Linked DNA regions of Homo sapiens. The protein of the gene in region 1 interacts with the protein of each later gene in a biochemical or structural test. Each region holds a gene or a part of one and is shown in the gene's direction. Other genes may lie near its edges. The genes, in order: PTPRA, RET and KCNA2.

Region 1 (7,750 bases):
TTTTAGAATGTACACAATACAAAACCCACATCTCCAAAGTAACATACAGTATATTTACTCATAGGCTATGTAAACAAACACTGTACATATGAAGTTTTAGAAATATGTGAGAAATAACTTTTAACTGATGACAAATGTATATCAACAGTGATTTCAACTTTATAAAAGGTGTGTGTGCATGTAGAGAAGCATTGGAATTGTCTATGGGGAGAGTTGCTTTAAAAAGGCAGTTTTGTATACTTTTTTGTAAAGTTAATCACTGATTTGCCCCCCACCTCCACAGTTTATTATAAAAACTTTCAAACATACAGCCAGGTAGAAATAATTTTACAGTGAACATTTGTGTAACTACCACTGGATTCTACCATTAGCATCTTACTATATCACACATCTGTTCATCTATCCATTCCTCTATGTCAATCCATCGTATTTTTCATATATTTCAAAGTAAGTTGCAGACATCAGTACACCTCCCCCTAAATACTTCAGTATGCATTTCAATAACTAGAGTTCATTTTTGGTTTGCAATTTTTTTTTTCTTTTCAGGCAAAATCTACATACATTGCAATCCACAGATCTTAAATGTAATTTTCTAAGTTTTGACAGATGTATAAGCCTATGAATTGTGACATTTAAAAACCAGAACTGGGATTTTCTTTTTTCAAATCCTTGCTTACTCAATTGAAATTAGTGTGAGATGCCTTCTGCCCTGAGCAGTTTGTACAGCAGGCCTATGCCTACATGGGTGGGCAGGGCCAAGTTTCGTCCAATGTATGACGCTAGGATTGGGGCTAGGAACTAGGACTGTGTAGCTGGAGGCAAAGAATCTGGGAACATTTCTTCTTGTATCAGTGGTAGCCAGTGCAGGGAGAATCAGGGCAAAGGCTGGGCGCAGTGGCTCATGCCTGTAATTCCAGCACTTTGGGAGGCTTAGGTGGGTGGATCACCTGGGGTCAGGAGTTTGAGACCAGCCTGGCCAACATGGTGAAACCCTGTCTCTAGTAAAAATACAAAAAAATTAGCTGGGGGTGGTGGCGGGTCCTGTAATCCCAGCTACTTGGGAGGCTGAGGCAGGAGAATCGCTTGATTGCTTGAACCCAGGAGGTGGAGGTTGCAGTGAGCTGAAATGGCGCCATTGCACTCCAGCCTGGGCAATGAGTGAAACTCTGTCTTAAAAATATATATATATATATCGAGCAAAGGCTCCTACAACTCACCTTCTCAGGGTAAGGGGCTGTATGTCCAGTCTCTTAGATACAAAGTTCCAGTGAAAGACTCTTGGGGTTGGCCAGGCGCAGTGGTTCACCCCTGTAATCCCAGCATTTTGGGAGGCTGAGGCAGGCAGATCGCCTGAGGTCAGGAGTTCAAGACCAGCCTGGCCAACATGGTGAAACCCTGTCTCTACTAAAAATACAAAATTAGCCAGGCGTGGTGGCGCATGCCTGTAATCCCAGCTACTCGGGAGGCTGAGGCAGGAGAATCGCTTGAACCCGGGAGGCAGAGGTTGCAGTGAGCCGAGATCGTGCCATTGCACTCAAGCCTGGGCAACAAGAGCAAAAACTCCGTCTCAAAAAAAAGAAAAAAAAAACTCGGGTTTGAACAGTGTGGCCTGCAAAGGGACTTGGCTCTCATTTACTTCACCTTTCTATCTTATTGCCTTGCTTTATTTTCATTTCAGCATTTAGGAAATTTTCTTGTTCTTTTGTTTATTGTCTGTGTTCCTATCCAGAATGTAAGCTCCTGAGAGCAGAGGCCTCTTCTGTCCTCTTCTGTCTTATTCCCTGCTGTGTCCAGCACATGGTCTGCACTCAATAAGTATTTGTTGCGAGAATGACTCATTGTTCCATTTACTAGAAGGGGAAAGGAGGCCCCGAGAGGGGAAATGACTTGCCTAAAGAAACAGGAGTCCTTTCCCCCCATCCTCCAGCTCTCCTGATCCTCTCCTTTGCTCATAAACCCTGTGACTGTTGGGGCACCTGTGGGGTGGCTGCGAAATGCCTACCTGTAGGTATGTGCTCCTGTGGGTTGGGACTAATGCAGGACTAGGAGTAGGAGGGCTCTGCAGTCCCCCATTTGGGTAGGCTTGGGCACAGGAAACTGCCTCCTTTCCCTTCCTCAGTTCTCTTCTCTTCCAGGATAACCCTTTACTCTGTGATGATGATGGGCGAGGGAGCTCAGGACACTCTGGGAGCCAAGTAGGATGGAGGGCTGGGCAGGTCTCTACAGGCAGGCAGCTGAGGAGGGGGCTCTGTCTTCTTCCAATGGAAACAGCATCTGTGTGGTTGCTGAGCTGAACCCTCCTTCCCAGGGTCTCCAGGGTCTGTAGTTCTCCTTGGTCTGTAGTTCTGTCACCCCTGTGCACACCCCACAAATGCTTTGACCATAGTGCAGCTGTCTCATGGGGAGAGAAAGAACTTTCATTTCCTGAGAATGGGTTACTTGCCAAGCTGAACATGCCTAATTCTCAATACAGCCCTGGGAAGTTCCAGGAAGAGTTGCAGAGGGAGGCTCAGGTCACCCAGCACATGGTGGGGCTGGAAACCCCGGGCTCTTTGACTACCACGCCCAACAACAATTTTTCCAAGTGTGGTCATATCCAAAAGGGGTCCTTCAGATAATCTCAAAGATGAACACTTACTGCAATCACTATTTCAGTTATATTAAAAATATAAGTAGCATGTCAACCCCTTCTAGGGTAATACAAATAAAAAGTAAAAAAAAACTAATCAACAAAAAGAAACATATTAAGAAATAATAGTGTAAATTAGATATAAGGCAAAAGTAAGCTGGTGGGGTTTGGTTCTAGAGCATAGGGCTGCTATCCCAGCTACTGAGGTACCTCCTGCGTTTGCAGTCATTACTTGTTAGGGGTTTTCACACTTTGACTTCCTGCTTTTCACTTTTCCATTCGGTGTTGCGGGATAGATTGAGTTTGGACTTAAGGGGATATGTGAATGTTGGGCGTGGGGAAGGATCCACCCTCACTGGGGTCTGAGCGTTAGGAGAGTAGGCGTGTGGACTCTGGGCCTTTGGGCTGGAGTGTCTATTGGTCAGAGGTGTCGGGTTCGGCCATTTCACCCTCACCTCTAGGCTGGCCCTGCTGAGAGGGAGAGAGAGTCACAACTCCCACTCAAGGAGAGACTTCCCTGCTGGGGAGGGGACGGCCTGAGGCCCGCCCCACCCATATTCCCAGGCCCTGGCTCTGGTTAGCATGGACTAACTTATTCCACAATACGGAGGAGTGGGGCACAGAGTCCCTAACTGGCGCCCCAACAGAAGGCGGTGGTGGGGACCGGAGATGGTAGGACTGGAGATGGTAGGGGCTGCTGATGTGAGCCCACAATACGGAGGAGTGGGGCACAGAGTCCCTAACTGGCGCCCCAACAGAAGGCGGTGGTGGGGACCGGAGATGGTAGGACTGGAGATGGTGGGGGCTGCTGGGAGCCCCTTTTGCGCCGCAGTGTTTCCTGCCATGAAGAGTTGCCGCCGGTCACAACCCTTCCCCGGGGGCGCCCCGAATGTGGGACTCCTTCCGGCCTGGGGTGCGTGAGGGGGACTCAGGGGTTGCCCGGTCTGGAGGAGAGACTCGCCGCCACCTACCCCGGGAACCGCAGACTCTGGGTCTGGGATAAAGCGTCCCCTACCCGCAAGCTCGGTTTGTGCGCTACTGTGCAATCTGTCTTTTGCCTGCAGACGCCCAGCCGCTCGCCCTGCGCGGGTCTCGGAATGTCCAGGGGTCCCTACTGGGGATCACAACCCGGCGAAATGTCGCATTTGCCACCACCTATCTCGACTGCGTAATCGGCTTTCAGCCGCAGACGCTCAGGTCCTGCAGCACCCGCGGGGATCCGTGTAGGAACCTGCTGCCGCTGGATGGACTGAGCGATTGCTTCGCGGGTGTCACGCACCAGACGCCGTGCCGGGAGCGCCGGGAAGGGGGTACGCGCCCCAACCCCGGCCGGGGGAGGGCGCACTCTGGCTCCTCTCTGCGTTTTGAGCCTCCCCTCCCCCGCCAGGCGTATCGCAAAAGGCACCTCCATCGCAGAGCACCATGTGTTGTGCTTCTACTCAGCTCGGTGGCGAGCGGGGCCCCAGCATGCGCATCTGGAAAGCGGGGGAGATTACCCTGGAGCTCGGGTGGGGACGGCGTGGGCTGACTTGATATAAGACGACACCCACGGAGCCAGATCCGTTCTAGGGACTTGGCAGGTTCCTCTCCCTCCCCAGTGAGATCCGTCGTTCTTTGCAGCAATTAGGGGAGGGAAAAAAAAGACCCACAGTATCACGTTTGGAGAGGGTTAGGAAGATGGCTCTCGAGTTGCAGGCCGCCCTGGTGGCTAGACATTGGTGTAGTTTGTGCCTGGCCTCGGTTTCCTGATCTGTAAACTGGGAAGAAGGCCCAAGTCATGAGGCCTGTGACTGTAGAATGGCTGAAGGCACTGGTGCACTCGCAGCCGGTCCTTCCGGGGTCCAGCTTCCCGAAGGACTGGGCAGCCCCGGGGCGAACCCCTCTGGAGCTACCAGGAGAACGTGCGACCGGGTTCGGCGCCCCAGCCGGCAAGTGAGCGCCCAGCGGAGCGCAAGGGCGGGGCCCGCGCGGGCCGGAGACGCCCGTTCGCTGTCGGCCAACCAGCGCCTGTCTCTGAACAGCCAATGAACACGCGTCTTACAGCCAAGGCCGGGTCGGGAGCGAGGCTGCGGCGAGTGCGGCGCTGACAGAGACGCGCGCGCGCGCGATCGCGCTCGGACCCCGGCCGCTGCCGCCATCACTGTCGCCCGCCCAGTCGCCCCTCAGCCGCTTCCCCTCGCCATGGAGGCGAGGCCGCCGCCGCCGCCGCGGGGCTCGGAGCCGCGGGCCGGGCGGCGGCCCTGAGGGCTAGTGGCGGCCCGAAACGCCGCCGCGGAGCCGAGGCGGAGCCGCTGTCCTCGTCCCCAGCGGTCCCGCCCAACGCCCGACTCTGTGAGTGTTCGCGGCCGCTGCGCCCGGGTGGGCTCCGGAAGGGGGAGCGGCTCCCGGGGGCGGTGGGAGGGGTCCCGGGCCACAGCCCAGAGCCCGGAGCCCGAAGCCCTAAGCCATCTTTTCCGGGTAGAAGCCTGCGGGCGCCTGCAGGTTGATTGTGCATCCTTGCGGGTCCGTCGCGGGGAGGGGGTCCCCGGAAACGTGCCGGCCCGAGTGCCGACCCCTCGCGACTGCCCAGGAACTTTGCATGCGTCCTTCTGGGACCAGGCCAGGGCACTGCCAGAGTTGATTCTCAGAGAAGAAACTTAGAACGGCGAGAACAGAATTTGCTCAGGTCCATTTAATGGGAGGAAAGAGGAAAACTCTTGGCATGAGAAAATTTGCTTTTGCAGTGACCAACTTTTCTTTCCCTTCAAGTCCACCTCCCTCGGTCCCCCGGCCCGTCTCCCAGGCCCCTCTCCTTGCCGCCCTCTCCCAACTGTTGAGGCTGTTTAAGAAGGGAAATAAGGGCTGAGAGCTGCCCAGAATTCAGAATAGGCCAATTGAGAACGCAGGTCCCCTCCCTTTTTACTTTCGGTAAATAAAAAATTTTTTTTGAAAAAATTAGTTACTAATTATATCTCCTGAAGATTAAAAAAAAAAAATAGCAGAGCAGAGTCCTGTCTTGAGGGTTTCGTTTTTATTTTTGAGATCACTGATGATATTTGTAAGACAGGAAAAGAAGAATGTGCAAATCCACCCTCTGCAGGGTGAACGCCATCAGAAGCCTTTGCTCAGGAGAGGGATTCCGGCTCTAGAACCAGTCCACATCACCCTGGAGATGGCTTCGTTTGCCACCTGCTAGCTGTGCAGGCAGCCTGAGAAACAGAAGATGGTGGGCGAGAGGAGGACTGACTAGGAAAGGGCGAACATCTTCCTGCCTGGCCACTCCTTTCAGAAACAGATCTGATGCTGTCACTTGTTTACTTAAAAACTCCCTCGCTTTTCTTTTTCCCATGGGATGAATGAAGCCTAAAATGCCTTATCAGGTCATACAAAGCCCTTGACAATCTTGCCTCAATTTACTCCTTTACTTTTAGCCTAATCGGATCCTCCAATTCTCCTTCCCCTCATCCCGCTTGCTGGCTAGTATTCAGAGCTGCTTGACTGCCCCCTCACATGTTGGGATGTTTTTGTTTTATGTGATCCTCTTTCTTCCCCACCTTTACCTGCCAAGCTCCACTTTTTCTTTTAAAGTTCTTCTCATTTGAGAAGCTTCTTGCGGGCAGGAGCTGTGTCTTGCCCACCTTTCTATCTCCCGTGGTGGGAGAATCCTCCAAGTTGTCTTGTAGATTCTTTCCAATCTCTTCTCTCTTATGCCTAGGCTCTGTTTATTTCCCGGTATCCACTTCCCAAGAGATTTTTTCGTGTTTTGAAGGCCTGCTTGGAGTACATGCCCAGGACTTTTAGTATTTCTGATTCCCGGCTTCCCCATGTCCATCCCACCCAGCCCCCATAAGCAGTCAGCAGGTGGGAACTGGTAGGTCCCATATCCCACTGGCCTCCAAAAAACTGTCTCTGAAAGACTAAAAGCCCTTCAGTCTCTTTTCACCTCTGCCTGCTCAAAGTGACCTGGCTGATACCGTGCATTGTAAGGCATGGTGGGATCCCGGGGCCTGTTCTCTGTTTAGCCACTTAACATCTGGGTGAAATACAGAACCAGAAAAACCACCCCTCTGACTTCAGTACATTCATGTGTCTTCCCTTTGCCAGGTGAATTGCTTGGGATACAAAAGTGAGGAAGTCAGTCCTTAACCTTTGAGGAACTCAGAGTCTAATGTAGGACAGGTGGATATAAATACATCACAGGTGCTATAAGATTGTGATAATAATAATAGCTATTTTTTATTTGCCTTGTGACAAGCTATGTAATGTTTTCCATGAATTCCCTCAGTCTTTTCAACAGTCATAAAAGGGCTTATTCCTACTCTACAGGGTTGGAAACTGAGGCCAAACAGTGGGCAAATGAGGGAATAGTCAAGATTTGAATTTTGGCCGTGTATTTGCAGAGCCTCTGCCAGGCTGTGTAGGGAGCATCCCCTGCCTGGGTGATTTGGGAAAGCTTTCCTGGGACGGGGGGGCCTTCGGATCATGAAGGATGCATAGGAGTTTGCGCGTGGTGGACTGCACACATAGGCAAGAGGGAGCAGCACAAGCAAACTTGGTGGTGGAAGGAATCCACTGTCCTTGGGGAGGAGGGAAGAGGTTAATCATAGCTGGATCAGGTAAGGACAATGGAGAGCTACTAGAGGATTTAAAGGAGGTCAGGGACTTGGGCTGAAAGAATTTTGGAAAGATCATTTGGGGGCAATATAGGGCCAAATGCAGATGCCCCTGCAATATAGGAGGCACTGGTTGGGTCTGACAGAGGTAGAGTCACAGCCTCTTAGACCCAGAGGAAGGTGTAGAGAGAATCCTGCTCAATTTTGGGAAAAGATAATTAATGCAGATGAGAGAAAAATTCAAAAGTTCTAGCAATACAAAAGAGTATATAGAGAAAAATGTCCCTCCTACCCTGGCCCCAAGTCTCCTGTCTCCCTAACCTCCTCCCCAGAGATGGCTGAAGTTTTCAGTTTATATGGCCTTCCATAGACACTGTTGCTTTATAAATATGTGCCTGCTTATCCATACTCCTCCCACCATGGGACGTACCACTCACACCTTACTGGGTTTTTTTACTTAACATATTTAGGAAATCATTCTATTATCAACATATATAGAGAGTTATTTGTTCTTTCTGTTGACATGCTT
Region 2 (7,104 bases), on another chromosome or scaffold:
CCACGTTATACCTGGGTAACTTAAAAAAAAAAGGTTTTTAACAAGATTTTATGGACCAGGCATAGTGGCTCACGCCTGTAATCCCAGCACTTTAGGGAGACCGAGGCGGGTGGATTGTTTGAGTCCAGGAGTTCGAGACCAGCCTAGGCAACATGGTGAAACCCTGTCTCTACAAAAAAAAAAAAAATACAAAAAATTAGCCAGGCGTGGTGGCACATGCCTGGATTCCAGGAACCTGGGAGGCTGAGGTGGGAGGATGGCTGGAGCCTGGGAGGTCAAGGCTGCAATGAGATGCAACAGAGCAAGACTCTGTCTCAAAAAAGAAAACCAATGTTATGGTTTGTAGGGTGTTTCTTAACCCTTGCCTGGCATGGCCTTAGGTCCTGTTTATAATTTGGTATCTTACTGCCACAAAGAGTCCGATCTGTCAGTCTTATGATCTCTGTTTTAATGTTAATGCCGGTCAGTTGTGTCCAAACTCCAGCAGGAAGAGGGCCTAATAAGGCAAGTCCACCCTGCCTTCCTGTCATGGCCCAGAATTCTGTTTTTAAGGTTTTTCTGGTGTCCCTTGGCCAAGAGGGGATCTATTCAGTTGGTCCGGGGACTCAAGATTTTAGTTTCAGTTTACAACTCTATACACAAACACCCCATACACACAGGCACCAATACCCTATGCACAGACACCACACAAATGCATACTACACACTTACACATACCACACACACGCATACCATGCAAGCATATCATACACACAGACACCCCATACAATGCGTACACATGCACACACACACAGGCTGCCTCAAATTGAGAAGGGTTCCTTGGACTTTCAGTTCAGTAAATCCCAACGTTTGAACATTGGTGCTAACTTAGGACCAGCCCCAGGCCTGTTGCATGGCACTGTATGTGTGAAAGTGCGTGTTTGCACCAGTGTGAGTGCAGGGCTGTGTCTGGGAAGAGGTGTGCTACACATGAGGAAGCAGCCAGAGCAGCTTGGTGGTCATTGTTGTGCCCCTACCTGCAGGGCTGGTTCTCAACCGGAACCTCTCCATCTCGGAGAACCGCACCATGCAGCTGGCGGTGCTGGTCAATGACTCAGACTTCCAGGGCCCAGGAGCGGGCGTCCTCTTGCTCCACTTCAACGTGTCGGTGCTGCCGGTCAGCCTGCACCTGCCCAGTACCTACTCCCTCTCCGTGAGCAGGAGGGCTCGCCGATTTGCCCAGGTGAGCCCATACCTATTGCCTGTCTGGGGAAGATTGAAAGGCCAAGGGACATGGGGGCACAGGGAGGCAGGTGACACTGCCTCTTGGCCCAACCAGCACAGAGTAGACTGGGTGGAGTCCTGAGCCCAGGGCCAGGAGGTACAGCTGTGTGCACAGAAGAGGCCTGGGAGAGCTCACAGTGGGCAGGGCTGGGGGCTCCTTGGGCCTCTCTTTTTTTCCCCTTTCCATTCTTGGTATCTTTAAAATGTATTTTCAAAAATGCAAGAGCAATACTGGGTAAATCTGCATATGGTGACTCGGAAGAATCTTCCTGGTGGATTGGTGAGAGTGGCTTGCAGAGATGTTGGTCCCACGTGACTCCCTTTGTGCAAAAGCAGATCTTCCCTGACAGGGATCTGCAAGTGTGCAGAGATCACAGTGCTGTCCACAGTGGTGCCCTCAGGGGGAGGCAGGAAACGCTTCCACTTTTTACTTTTTGTAACTAGGTTTGCTAGAAAGCGTATATTTATATTTGTCTTTGGAAAATAATGATTAGAAATAGAAGGCATAAAAGTAATAAATATTCATTAAAGAAGATGAGGCATGAGGCATGAGGCGTGATCCCTTCTACCCATAGGCGCCAGTGTTGCACATCGTGGTGTTCTTTCTGGGATGTTTCTCGTAAGCACTTATTAAGTTGACTTGAAACTGCAGCACGCATGTTCTCGCATGCCGCTCTCCCTTGCAGAGCAGCCCGTGGCGCCTCCTCTTCAGGGGCCATCTGCCAGTTCTTTCGGGTGGTTCTGTGCCCGCATCAGCTCCTGGCAGCCACCCGTGTCCAGCCCACGAGGGAGCCCACCCTTGGACATATCTAAGCTCCCCGACCACCTCCTTGGCCTTTAATGGGAGTGGGATCAGAGACAGAGGGGCGACAAGACAGAGGGCCCCGGGGGGTCTCATGGGGGGCGGGGCAAGAGCAGGCATTGCTGAAGTTGGGTCACCTGCCCTCTGTCAGGAGCAACGGGGGCCTGAATCCCAGTCCAGCCTCAGCCTCACTGTGGTCTCACCTTTCTCCCCAGTTTGTAAAGCTGTGAATTAGGGACAGGAACCCTGAACAATTTTGAGAGTCACATGAGCATTTGGAAGTGGGCTTTGTAGGGGAAAGTGAGGAGGCCCAGGAGGCTGGTTTTTGCTGTGGTCACTTGTGGGCCTGGGAGAGCCCAGCCCTGCTCTGGCCCGCCCCCATCTCGCCATCTGTGGAACTTTTGGTTTCAAGCAGCTGCAAGAGTTGCCAAGAGGTTGAAAGAATTCAGCTGCCTGACTCCAGGTCCTGGCATCCCCAGGAGAGGCCCCTCTTTCCCAGGGGCTCTGGTCAAAGTCCCAGAGCCTGGCATCCCCAGGAGAAGAGGCTCCTCTTTCCCAGAGGCTCTGCTCAAAGTCCCAGGGAGGCCCCCTGGTCCTGCATGGGCTGGGGCAACCATGCTCCCGAGTCTTGTGGCTGGGGTTCAGTGCTCTGACCAGGGGACACCAGGGCAGGGTGGACCTCTAAACCCTGTGCACTGAGGGAGGAGTGAGGGGTCCCCAGAGCACTGCTGGGGCAGCTGGGAGCAGCCAGGGAGGAGCCTGGGAGACATTCCGGCGGCTTTGTTGTCTGAGTGAGGGAGGAAAGGGGAGTAAAGGGTTGAGTCAGGGCCTGCCTGGGGCTTTTCCTGCCACCAAACTGAACCTCGAGGCCCTGGGTTGCCTTGACCTCCAGCTCCCAGGAACAGGGGCAGCTGGTAACATGTGGCCTGAGTGGAACGGGGCAGGGCAGGGCTGGGGCAGGTGGGTGGGTATGAAGGCTCTGAGGGGTGGAGGACAGGGTGCTCGGGGGGGCTGCTGTCTCCAGGCCCAGTTGGGGGCTGTTCCAGGACTTAGGCTGTGTGGGAATCTCTACCCTCAGGCCATTACAGGCCGGTCCAGCTGCCTGGCTAAGGTGTTCCCCTGTGCCCCCCTAGATCGGGAAAGTCTGTGTGGAAAACTGCCAGGCATTCAGTGGCATCAACGTCCAGTACAAGCTGCATTCCTCTGGTGCCAACTGCAGCACGCTAGGGGTGGTCACCTCAGCCGAGGACACCTCGGGGATCCTGTTTGTGAATGACACCAAGGCCCTGCGGCGGCCCAAGTGTGCCGAACTTCACTACATGGTGGTGGCCACCGACCAGCAGACCTCTAGGCAGGCCCAGGCCCAGCTGCTTGTAACAGTGGAGGGGTCATGTGAGTGCCTGCTCCAGGGAGGGAGGGTCGGGGTCCTGGGGGCTTCTGGAGCCTGGGCCTCCTGCCCTTTGAGAAAAGCAGTACAGCTGCAAGGCTTAGCTGGGGAGTGGGGAAGGCATGGACCAGCTTCACCCTGAGTGACCCAGCAGTAAATGGTTGCTCCTTCCAGATAACATACAGGACCTTGGGTAAATTTGAATTTTGGGTAAACAACAAGCAGTTTTTTGGTATAGGTGTGTTCCATGCAACTTTTGCAGCTTCTCGAAAGACACACCTCTAGGTCCATCCATGCCCTCTTAGGAACATGCTGACACAGCTGCCATTCATGCCATTCATTGTGTATCTGAAATGTAGGTCCCACAGGGCGTCGTTGGCTGAATCTGGCTGCACTCACATCCTTCCTCCTGTACTTACCCCAGCCCAGGTGACCCCTGCTTTGTGACCATGATGTCCTGTACCCTGCCCTGCGCCCTGTGCTCCTGGCACTGTCTTTGCTGCCCTGGGTCTGTCACTCCGGTCCCCTTGGGCTCCATCCGTGGGCAGCTCAGCTGGTGCTGTTCCCTGTCCTTGGGCACTAGCTGGACGCTGGGCCCAGGCCAGCCCCCTGTGACCCTGCTTGTCTGCCACCTGCAGATGTGGCCGAGGAGGCGGGCTGCCCCCTGTCCTGTGCAGTCAGCAAGAGACGGCTGGAGTGTGAGGAGTGTGGCGGCCTGGGCTCCCCAACAGGCAGGTGTGAGTGGAGGCAAGGAGATGGCAAAGGTAAGCCCTGGAAACGCCCAAGGGAGGCCTGCAGGGGCGATGGCACCGGTGGAAACGGGGTCCTGGGGCCCTGCCAGCCTGGGGTGGCTCTCCCTGCTCCAGGTCTGCTTCTGGCACCTCATCCCCCATGTGGCTCTCGATGCCAGCATAGCGGGCAGCAGTGCAGGGCTTGGGAGAGGGCTTGTGAGTACAGTGAATGGTCCCCAGGCCGGATTCACTCTGGACTTGGGAAGGTCTGAACCAAAGTTGGGATGTGCTGGGGACAGAATGGCGTTTTTCTGGGAGGTCCTCGGCCAGGGGATGTGGTGTGGGCAGGGGACTCATTGTCTGCATCAGCCAGAGGCCAGCCTGGGTGTGCCCACCACCATGAGGGGCCCTCACCATGCAGCCCTGAGAGGGTCCCGGCCTCTTTGCTGTAAGGGCCACCTGTGTGAGGAACCCCCCATACCTCCTCTCCCATAAGCCATGGCTCCCCAGGATGCTTCCGCTGGCAAGGCTCTGTATATGGTGTTTCCCTACTCAGGCCTCCAGTTGCTCCTCCCTAGAGGGGCAGGATCTGCCTAGGAGGTGGTGGGGGCGTGTGGCGGGGCTCCCACATGGGTGACAGCCTGCTGTGTGTCCTGTGCAGGGATCACCAGGAACTTCTCCACCTGCTCTCCCAGCACCAAGACCTGCCCCGACGGCCACTGCGATGTTGTGGAGACCCAAGACATCAACATTTGCCCTCAGGACTGCCTCCGTAAGCAGGGTTTAATCAGGGCATGGGAACAGGTAGGAGATAGTAGGGGAAACCTGGATCCCACAGGCACTTCAGCCAGAGTTGCCAGGGCTGTCAGTTCTATGCATCAAGCTGAGCCTCCTGTGCATTTCAGCATCACCCTAGCCATGGGGAGGGAGCAGGCAGGGTCAGGGACAGGGGGAAGGCAGGGACCCACAGACTGTCCAGGCCCCTGCTGAGGTCCCAGAAGTCGGCACACACAGATTTCAGAAGCAGAGAATGGTCAGTAGGGACACTGACAGGGAAAGTGCGGCCCTGAGCCAGACGAGGGACACTGCAATGTGCGGGTCAGGCCACCAGGCTCCAGTTTTGGAGGCAGAGTCCTTTGTTCAGATGAAATGTTAGGAGGGGGCCTGGCTTCACCCATGGCTTCAGAAAGGCACTGTGACCAAGCCCTGCCCGGCTAAGCCAAGCTGCTGGGCCCCTGGCCTCACTGGGCCTATGCTTGCGACACCAGTTGGGGAGGGGGCTCCTTGGGACACTGCCCTGGAAATATGGGCGCCTGGGGTGGTCAGGCGCCCCAGGAGGCTGAGTGGGCTACGTCTGCCCTCAGGGGGCAGCATTGTTGGGGGACACGAGCCTGGGGAGCCCCGGGGGATTAAAGCTGGCTATGGCACCTGCAACTGCTTCCCTGAGGAGGAGAAGTGCTTCTGCGAGCCCGAAGACATCCAGGGTGAGTGGGTGGCGGCCGGGACCACCACCACCTCCCAGCCCCACAGAGGTCTCAACAGCACATCTGAGGTCCCAACAAGGGAGGAAATTGCTGGGAGGCGAGTGGGCCCCATGAAACTTCCCTCCCTCCCTCTGGGCCTCTGTTACTCCACCCAGGAGAGGGGCCAGGGCCCCTGTAAAGTGTCTTCTGGCCATAAGTTCTATGATGGACAGGCCAGAAAAGCAGTTCTTCCACCAAACAACTTGTCAGCCTGACAAGTCACTGTCCCTGTGACCATGCAGCTGGGACCCACCCAGGAACACATTTCAAGGTCAGCAGGTATGGTGGGTTGCACAGCCACACTGACTACACTCAGGGGTGCTGTTCTGCCTGAGCATAGGGACACGTTTCTGTCATTGAGTTTTCTGGTATTATATAGCCCTACGTCCCTAGCCACTTAGCATTTTCATAAAGAAAATGCCAAAGACATTTGGAACAGAGGAAAATTTTGACCTCCCCTGCCAGCCCTCCAGTGCCAGCTGGTGTAATGAGCACAGCCTCTGCTGTGTGACCTTGGCAGGCTGCTCAGCCTCTCTGAGCCTCTGTCTCCATCTGTAAGAGGGCAATAGTGGTCTAGGAGGGGGCAGTAAATGGCAGTACCCATGCTCGATGGGGTGTTCTCAGGCCTTCCCACACCTCCATGGCCACTTCCCAGCTGGCGCGGACACGGCAGGCTGGAGAGCCATGAGGCAGAGCATACGCAGCCTGTACCCAGTGGTGCCGAGCCTCTGGCGGTGCCAAGCCTCACACCACCCCCACCCACAGATCCACTGTGCGACGAGCTGTGCCGCACGGTGATCGCAGCCGCTGTCCTCTTCTCCTTCATCGTCTCGGTGCTGCTGTCTGCCTTCTGCATCCACTGCTACCACAAGTTTGCCCACAAGCCACCCATCTCCTCAGCTGAGATGACCTTCCGGAGGCCCGCCCAGGCCTTCCCGGTCAGCTACTCCTCTTCCGGTGCCCGCCGGCCCTCGCTGGACTCCATGGAGAACCAGGTCTCCGTGGATGCCTTCAAGATCCTGGTGAGGGTCCCTGCGGGGCAGGGAAGATCCCCTGCCCTCCCCAGCTGCCTTCCAGGGAGGGAGGCCAGCTGGGGAGACAGAGGCCATCCTGTGAGGGGCTGCCAACGCTGGGCAGACGAGGCCTGTGTTCTGCCCCCATTTCCATAGGGCGCTGTGTGGGGACAGTCTGTGGGGTGGGACTGTGATGAGGTGCCGTTCCCATCTAGGTGAGAGGCAGTGGTCAGGGTCACAGCATCGGGCAGGGGAGCAGCAGTGTGGATGGAGGGGCACTGAAGTCAGAAGGGGGTGCCTTTCTGGGGAGCCTGGCCTGCAGGTCTGCATGTGCTACTCAGAGCCTCCAGGCTGTGCCGAGTATCCTGGAGCCTCCTTGTCCCGGC
Region 3 (7,104 bases), on another chromosome or scaffold:
TCGCTAAAGAGCCAGAATGGATCCCCTGCTTTGAAACCAAGGACACCAAGGAGTAGGACTCCCTGGGACCAAATTCCACTGATCTGGACCTAAAGGGAGCCTCCTCTATGTGGAAATGTCTGAAGTCCGGGACTAAGTGATGGAGTCCCTAGATGATCCAAAGGCATCATTTTGATCTCCAGACCCAAACTCTCTCCCCATTAAACTGGCAACCAGAGCTGCTTTTTAAAAAGAACCAAAGGATGGGTAAAGAATCATTTCCCACCCCCCAGAAGAAGTAGAGTGCAAATGAGCACTGCACAGCCTAAAGGTAGACAGTAGGTTGACCCTGAAATGGCTTCAGGTAGGGGGCTTTTAACTCACCAGACTGGGCGTCTTTGCCTTTTGACGGAGTAGCTTAATTTTCCCAAACAGTGAATTGCAGGGGTCGGGCTATGCAGGGGTGGCTCCAGCCCAGGCCTCACTGCTGCCTAGTTAGCACCTACAGTTGTCTTGGGGCATGGGGCACCAGCTCAGGGTGCTAGGCCCAGGGTGCTCATTAGTGCCTGGTCACCCACATCCCCAGGTATCTGCAGGGCATCCCATGCCCAGCACAAAGCCTCTGTGCTTCTCTTCCTCTCCTTCATGGGAGGTGGTGCTGAATTTCCAAGGCATGGGGTGGGAGGGACACAGATCTTTGGAAAATAGAAGGTAAAGCAACCCATATCTGAGGCCTAGGTCAGGGATAGATATCTTATCACAGTGTCCTTGGCCCAGGACTCTAAAATGTTCACATACAGTCATGCACATTCACCACAAAATAGGTACACTGTTGTCACACACAAACATAAAACATGTAACGTGCAAAATACAGACAGACCAGGTTAACATAAAAGCAAACACAGAAGATATATGGTTATAATTGTATATAAAATGCACACTCTGCACAGATATAGAATTTACACAGAACATACACAAAAGACAAACATACACCACATACAAATATACAACCTGAAACTCAGATGCAAAATACATAAAAAACTACATGGACAAAATGCATATGCATATAAGATACACAAAGGCTACTTTACCATTGTTTCTACACATAAAATACACACAAACTCAGTATATACACACGATGCATTAACTTATAATAGGCATACAAGATACATAGCACACATGCCCAAAAATATCGCACAATACACATGAAATGCAGACATATACTCAGACCCATTGCCCTGCCCCCAGAGCTATGAATTAACAGGCACAAACAAAAGATCAGATGTAATCACCTTTGCCTGGCCTGTGTCTATATCCCCCAGGATCTTTCAAGGAATCTCTTTCTCTATTCTTTTCTCTCACTACCAGATTTCACTCCTGAGAAGTAACTCCTAGGTTTCAAGCAGGAGGATGGGCCACCACATCAAGCAGATATCTGACTAAGACCAGGAATTGCATGGGGTCTCTACCAATTCACCTTCCTCCCACCAGAAACCTGGGTGCAGGGTGTGAAAGTACCTGGGACAGCTGGTAGCCTAATATAGGCCTCCTTGCCATGACCCTTCCTTCCTTCCAGCAAATCCGCACAGACAACCCAATAGCCCAGGCTCCCCTTCTCCCAGCACCTGGGATCTCCAGATTCAGCCCTATTCTCTTAAAAGCAGTAATGGCTCAAGAAACTGCAGGATCTTGAGCCCAGGACCAGGGTAAAGATGTCCCCAACATTCTCTAAGCCCACAGATTTTATTGCCCTTCCATCCTTTGCAGCTTTGTTGGGGGCACGGTCAGGAAGTTGAGACCCTATAGAGACCTGTCTCTTAAAATGAGCCACCTTTACTTGCTTGTGGCATTTCACTTGCTCTTGTGCATAAGCCCAAAGGGGCCAACTCCTGATTCCCCTCTGGGTGTGTTCAATCCCGGGCACGCTCTTCCTTTTCCTCTTGTTGGGCTCCCCTGGATGCCCTGCCTCCCATCCAATTGCTATGCAACCCAGTTCAGCTTAAGTAAAAAGTGATTAAGAACATACATCTAAGGCTAAGCAAGCTAACACTTTTTAGAGGGCCTGACTTTATCCTATATTCTAAGGCCATATTTAAATACTTTCTAAGATTACCCACCATTTTGGATTACTCTTGGAGCTGGTTCTTCCCCTAAGTAGGACTAGCTGAGAGCTGAGTGCATTTTAGCAAAGGCTTCACCTACATCGGAAGTAAAGAGTTGCAGTCAGGCTTTGGATCAGGCCTCACTCCTGATTTCTGCTCCTGCAGCCATCCCGTTGTGTCTCACTCTCCCTTCCAGTGATGGTCGCAGCTCCCAGTCTCTACAGAAAAGGTAACAACAGTAGGGAGTGGACATATGGGTCCAAAACGTGTGCTTTGCTGGAAACTTGTGTTTCCAGGTCAAGGTACCATTCCTGTTGGCTTCATCAAGTGCCTCTGTGGATTCATTTTCAAGAAACTTGGAGTTTTCAGGAGACCGAAAAGGAATAGGCCCAGGAAAGGTGGAGAGATTGTCAGGAAGAGAGAGTGGCTGAGTGGGTCAAATTTCAGAGTAAACTTTTTAGGAGCCAACATTTAATTAAGAAAATAATTAAGGCTCTGTGCTTTCTGAAACTTCAGTAATATTTGACATGCTCTCTTCCTTCTTCTCTGCTTGCCTCTGTCCCTCTCACCTGTGTTTCTGAGGCTAGTGTTGGCATGTCACCATGAGGTTAGCCTTTTAAAAGGGGCCCCACGGGAGTGTGCCTCTAGATTGCGTTAGCCTAGTATGGAAAGGGCTCCCATGGAAGCTATGATGGCCTGAGACCCCAGCCTGGGTGTTCATGTTGCTGCTCCGTGTTGGGAGGGCCCAGGACTAGCTTGTTCTACCTATTCTTCCTGGATCTCTCACTATATTATAGTGAGGACTCTATCAGTATCAACCCATGTGGAGAGAGGACAGCACCCTCTGAAGCTCCTCAGGCTGGGGATTCAGCACTGCCCACAGTAGTAGAGTCACAGAGGCTGACTCCCCCCTAAGGAAACTATAGAACAGTGTGCAAATTGCATATGAAGGTGGCACCACTACCCCTATGTCAGGCAGGGGAGCACAGTGCTTTGACTTGTTTACTCAAGAGAGGGGATGATGGTGCTGAGCTCTGCTCCCCAGAGCTTTCCTGGGGCCCATTGTCATAATAACTTGTATGTGGGTGATGGCCGCCTCATCTGCGAGGGCTATAATATCCATGGTGCTCCTTGGTTGCACAATGGAGGTTCCCCTAGCCTTGGCAAGGTATCCATTGCCGGGTTTGAACTCATGACCTTAACCTCATTAACATCATCAGTCACCTGAGCCAACGCGCAGAGAGGGGGATGCTGGGAGCTCTCTCAGTAGCTATTGTGACCATCATCTATATCTTCAGACTTAGCCCTTGTTGAGTCCAACCCTGTTCCCCTATCAAAGCAACCAGCAGGGACAGATGGAGGTAGGGGCTCCCCTACATGCAGGAAGGTTCTCTTCCTCAAACTAACCTAGTTTACTTTTCCTTTTTTTCTGCTTCCCTTCCCACCAAATCTCAGCTTCATCTCTCATAGTTTGTGTTTGAATATTTTTAAAGAGGAAAAGTGCAATAAAATAAATAGTGACTGTTTTCTTTAGCAATAGCTCTTTCAAAATCTTGCTCTCAGGACTGAAAAGTGATAGATAGTACCTGGATTATCAGATAATGCCCTTGACTTCTGGGGGCTCATTCACAGTCTCTGTAGTTTCTTCTTCTTCCCACGTGTTCACATGACTCCTGTCCTCTTGAGATCTGACCTCCTTCTGGAATGGACACATATGCTAAGATGCAGTGTATGCACAAGGAAGGCCTGTGAGAGGGCTTTGTCACTTTGTCTCCTTCCTGTGTGCACCTCTCTGTCTCCATGTGTGTCTCTGTCCCCTCTCCCTCTGTCTCCCCATTTCTGCCTGCTGTCATACAGCATCCTTACAACCTCTAGGCATGAAAATCCTAAGTTTGTGTGACCTTTTCAGCCCATTTTGTTGACTTTCCCTCAGTCTGGCAGATGTAATGGAAGCCTACACGAAAGCACTTCCCAATAGATAAGAATAAAGCATCCTGAGCCATTACAGAAGATCATTTCCATGCACTAAAAGCCATTACTTGATCCTTTTGCTTCCCCTTCTCCCTTCCCCAGGGAGACGGATGCTGAGGGAATGTGGCCTGGAGGTTTGCACTTGGGATCAGTAGCCTGGGCAGATTTGGGAATTGCCCTCTGACTCTCTTTCAAAATAAGCTGACTTGCTCAACCAAAGGGACTCCGTGAGAGCTGCAGAAGGAAGCAGGTTCTTGTGGGTTTCAGTAGAAGTCTACAGGGATAGAAGTTTGGGTGGTTAGGGCATGACATTAGTGAAATAAAGACTCTACCACCCGCTAGAGTGTGCAGCTGCACAAATATTTGCACACATAGCCAGGGGCTTCAGAAGAGTCCCCTTTCCTAACATCTGTGAGCTTAAATGTTCAGACTGGACAATCAGGGAAGGCTGGCAACCCCAGGGTCCCATTCCATCCTTTTTTGATCTACCTTGCTCTATACACATATGTACAGCAAAACCTCAGTTAACTGATGGGGAAACCTCAGGGACAGGAACATCCTGATTGCTTTGCAATTTTGGTTATTTGAGTGGGAATGGGAAAGCATGTCTGGTTCAACCTTTGTTATTGAGAAAAATATTTCCTAAGTAGGTTAGCATAACTTTCCTGCCTTAGTTAAGTAGAGTGTTTGAAGATAACAGGGACCTTGCCTTGCTCAGGGTCAACATTGTAAACCTCAATGCTTATTGTACAGTAGTGGACATAGGTAGAGAAGACCAAAGAGACAGGCTGAATGGCTGCTGGCTACAAGACAGGCCTGGAAATGGGCCACTGGGGCACATCCTGGCTCATCGGAGCCCTTGCTGTCATTTGCCTCTTTCTACTGAAAGGATAGTAAGAAAACATAATTCTTGTCAATCGAGGTTTTGGTTAATTGGTCCTGAGTTTTTAGAGGTTTTCCATATATACATATATTTATGTGTGTATATATATATATATAGTATATGTATATATGTATACTATTTTTAAATTATAGAATTATACATTGACCAATCTCCTTAGTTTCACTTATGTGGAATAAATTTGGCAATCCAAGGAATAAACTGCATTTATGTGCATTTTTTGAATGACCTCCTTTGCATTCTTTTCACCTCTCCAGTTCTACTCTTTTTTTTTCTGCTTAGGGACCTCTCTAGAAGGCAGATCTTTCATAAAAAAAGAACAGGCTACAGGATCACCTCTTTCCTTTCCCTCCCAGGTGGCTGCCTGACTCAGGGATAAAAGGGAAGTCTGATCTAACAGCCAGGTGCTTTAGCCTTTCTTCTGTCTGCCCTGGTTGGCTATAACCTCATCACTGAGGATCAGAAAAGTTATTCCAAACTTTGTACTCGAGGGGAGTGGAAAGCTTGAAGACCTGGCAAAGGATTTATCTATTTAGCATTCTCTTTGTCATTGGTGGTGCCCTAGGTTTGAGGTTTGTGAGATCTGAAAGTAACATTCCAATGAAGAACTAAAGCACATCTCTGCCACACAGAAGGTGAGGTTTGTGGCAATCAATGGAACTAACAAATCCATTCTGTTTTTTATTATGACTAAACCTAAGTTGAGGGTGTGGGTATTAGAGCAGCTGAAATTCAGTTGCCTCTTTGGGGGTAAGCTGTACACATCACTCAAGAAACAGCTGGATGCAAGCTAAAACCTGCTCTCATTCTCCCTCTTGCCTGCTAGTGTGTTAGATCCATGGAAGACAGTTTCTCTCAGCCTCACCTCTTGCATTTGACTGTTGCTTTCTACCTAGATGGGAGTGGGAGGGATTTTTCACTGTATCTGGAGCAATTGAAGTGGTGCAGGGGTGTCTGCCATCTCCCCACACCCACAGAAGCCCTCCAGTCTGGCTATGTTAGTTGTGATCAGGCAGCAGAAGCCCATAACCCAGACTTGACATGACCAGCTGGTGCACTGAGGCAGTTGAGGTGGCCTGTCTGGATGGCTACTTCTTGTACTTCATGAACCTCAGCATGGAAATGGATATAACTTTCTGTGCTCCTCTGCACTCCTAAAATAGTCTAATATGTTCCAGATGAGTTTGCAGCTGAGAACTCCCTGCATCATTCCACTGATGGATGCACAGGGCATGATTATGTAATAATGTGGACAGCTACTGCAACATCTAGATCATTGAGGGCAGTGTAGATGTGGCTGTGTGCTAGGACCCTTGGTAGCTATCCAGAGGACTCAGTCTGGTGTCTTTCTGAGTCTCTGTGAGAGGCCTCTAAGCCCTGCTTCTCCTTGAAAATGATTCCCTAGACACCGAATGCCTTGTTTGTATGAGTGAATAAATGCTCTGGGCTGCTAGAGAAAGCAATAGGAGGAGCTGGGAGGAAGAGAATATTCAGGGGCGCACTTTGCTACCAAACAATTTCCATGTCAGCTGCTAACATTACTGCCTTTTTAGCCTATGAAGTGTAGGGCAAGGACTTTGACCTGCCAGGTGGGGCTGGAAAGGAGCACATCAGCTCCAGGCTAAGAAATGGGATAGAAAAGCAAGAAGAGAGGCCTGGCTGGCTTTGGCGGGGGTGAGTCTCAGCTCCTGAGGGTTTGAACATGCTCTGTGCTTGCCCCAGTTCTGCCTTCACGTGGGATCCAGCGACCCAGTTTCCTTTTGTTGTCGTGCTTGGATGGTTCCTTCATTTGAAGGGCCCCAGGAAGCTGGAAAGTCCCATGATCAAGCTCTAGCCTGCTGAGCAAACAATACCCCAGCCAAATTGGCCTCTTCCTGGTTTTCTGCATCCCTGCACCCCTCTCTCCACTAAGGATAATCTTGGAACAGTTGCGATTAATGGTGCCAGCAATCAAGGAAGATTCTCTAGTTTTCATCAGGGACATAGCTGTAAAGCTCATGAGTGGAGGATGCTATTTCCTTTTCCAGACCTGTGTGCTTATGTGCTTATATAGGCTGCCTCTGGAGACTTTATATTGTGTGTGATGTGTGTGTATATATATATACACACACATATATATATATATGTATATATATATATAGAGAGAGAGAG

The links.
Region 2: of the proteins of PTPRA (region 1) and RET, one has a biochemical effect on the other in vitro, tested with the Homo sapiens proteins (one study listed by BioGRID).
Region 3: the proteins of PTPRA (region 1) and KCNA2 form a complex in vitro, tested with the Homo sapiens proteins (one study listed by BioGRID).

What each region holds. Positions count from the first base shown.
Region 1 is NC_000020.11:2,868,801-2,876,550, forward strand, and holds the start of PTPRA (receptor-type tyrosine-protein phosphatase alpha isoform 1 precursor), read left to right. Parts: upstream 1-4,680; 5' UTR 4,681-4,960; intron 4,961-7,750. UniProt on the Homo sapiens protein: Tyrosine protein phosphatase which is involved in integrin-mediated focal adhesion formation.
Region 2 is NC_000010.11:43,108,010-43,115,113, forward strand, and holds part of RET (proto-oncogene tyrosine-protein kinase receptor Ret isoform a precursor), read left to right. Parts: intron 1-1,021; coding exon 1,022-1,221; intron 1,222-3,197; coding exon 3,198-3,456; intron 3,457-4,089; coding exon 4,090-4,215; intron 4,216-4,843; coding exon 4,844-4,954; intron 4,955-5,546; coding exon 5,547-5,666; intron 5,667-6,470; coding exon 6,471-6,727; intron 6,728-7,104. UniProt on the Homo sapiens protein: Receptor tyrosine-protein kinase involved in numerous cellular mechanisms including cell proliferation, neuronal navigation, cell migration, and cell differentiation in response to glia cell line-derived growth family factors (GDNF, NRTN, ARTN, PSPN and GDF15).
Region 3 is NC_000001.11:110,594,283-110,601,386, reverse strand, and holds part of KCNA2 (potassium voltage-gated channel subfamily A member 2), read left to right. Parts: 3' UTR 1-7,104. UniProt on the Homo sapiens protein: Voltage-gated potassium channel that mediates transmembrane potassium transport in excitable membranes, primarily in the brain and the central nervous system, but also in the cardiovascular system.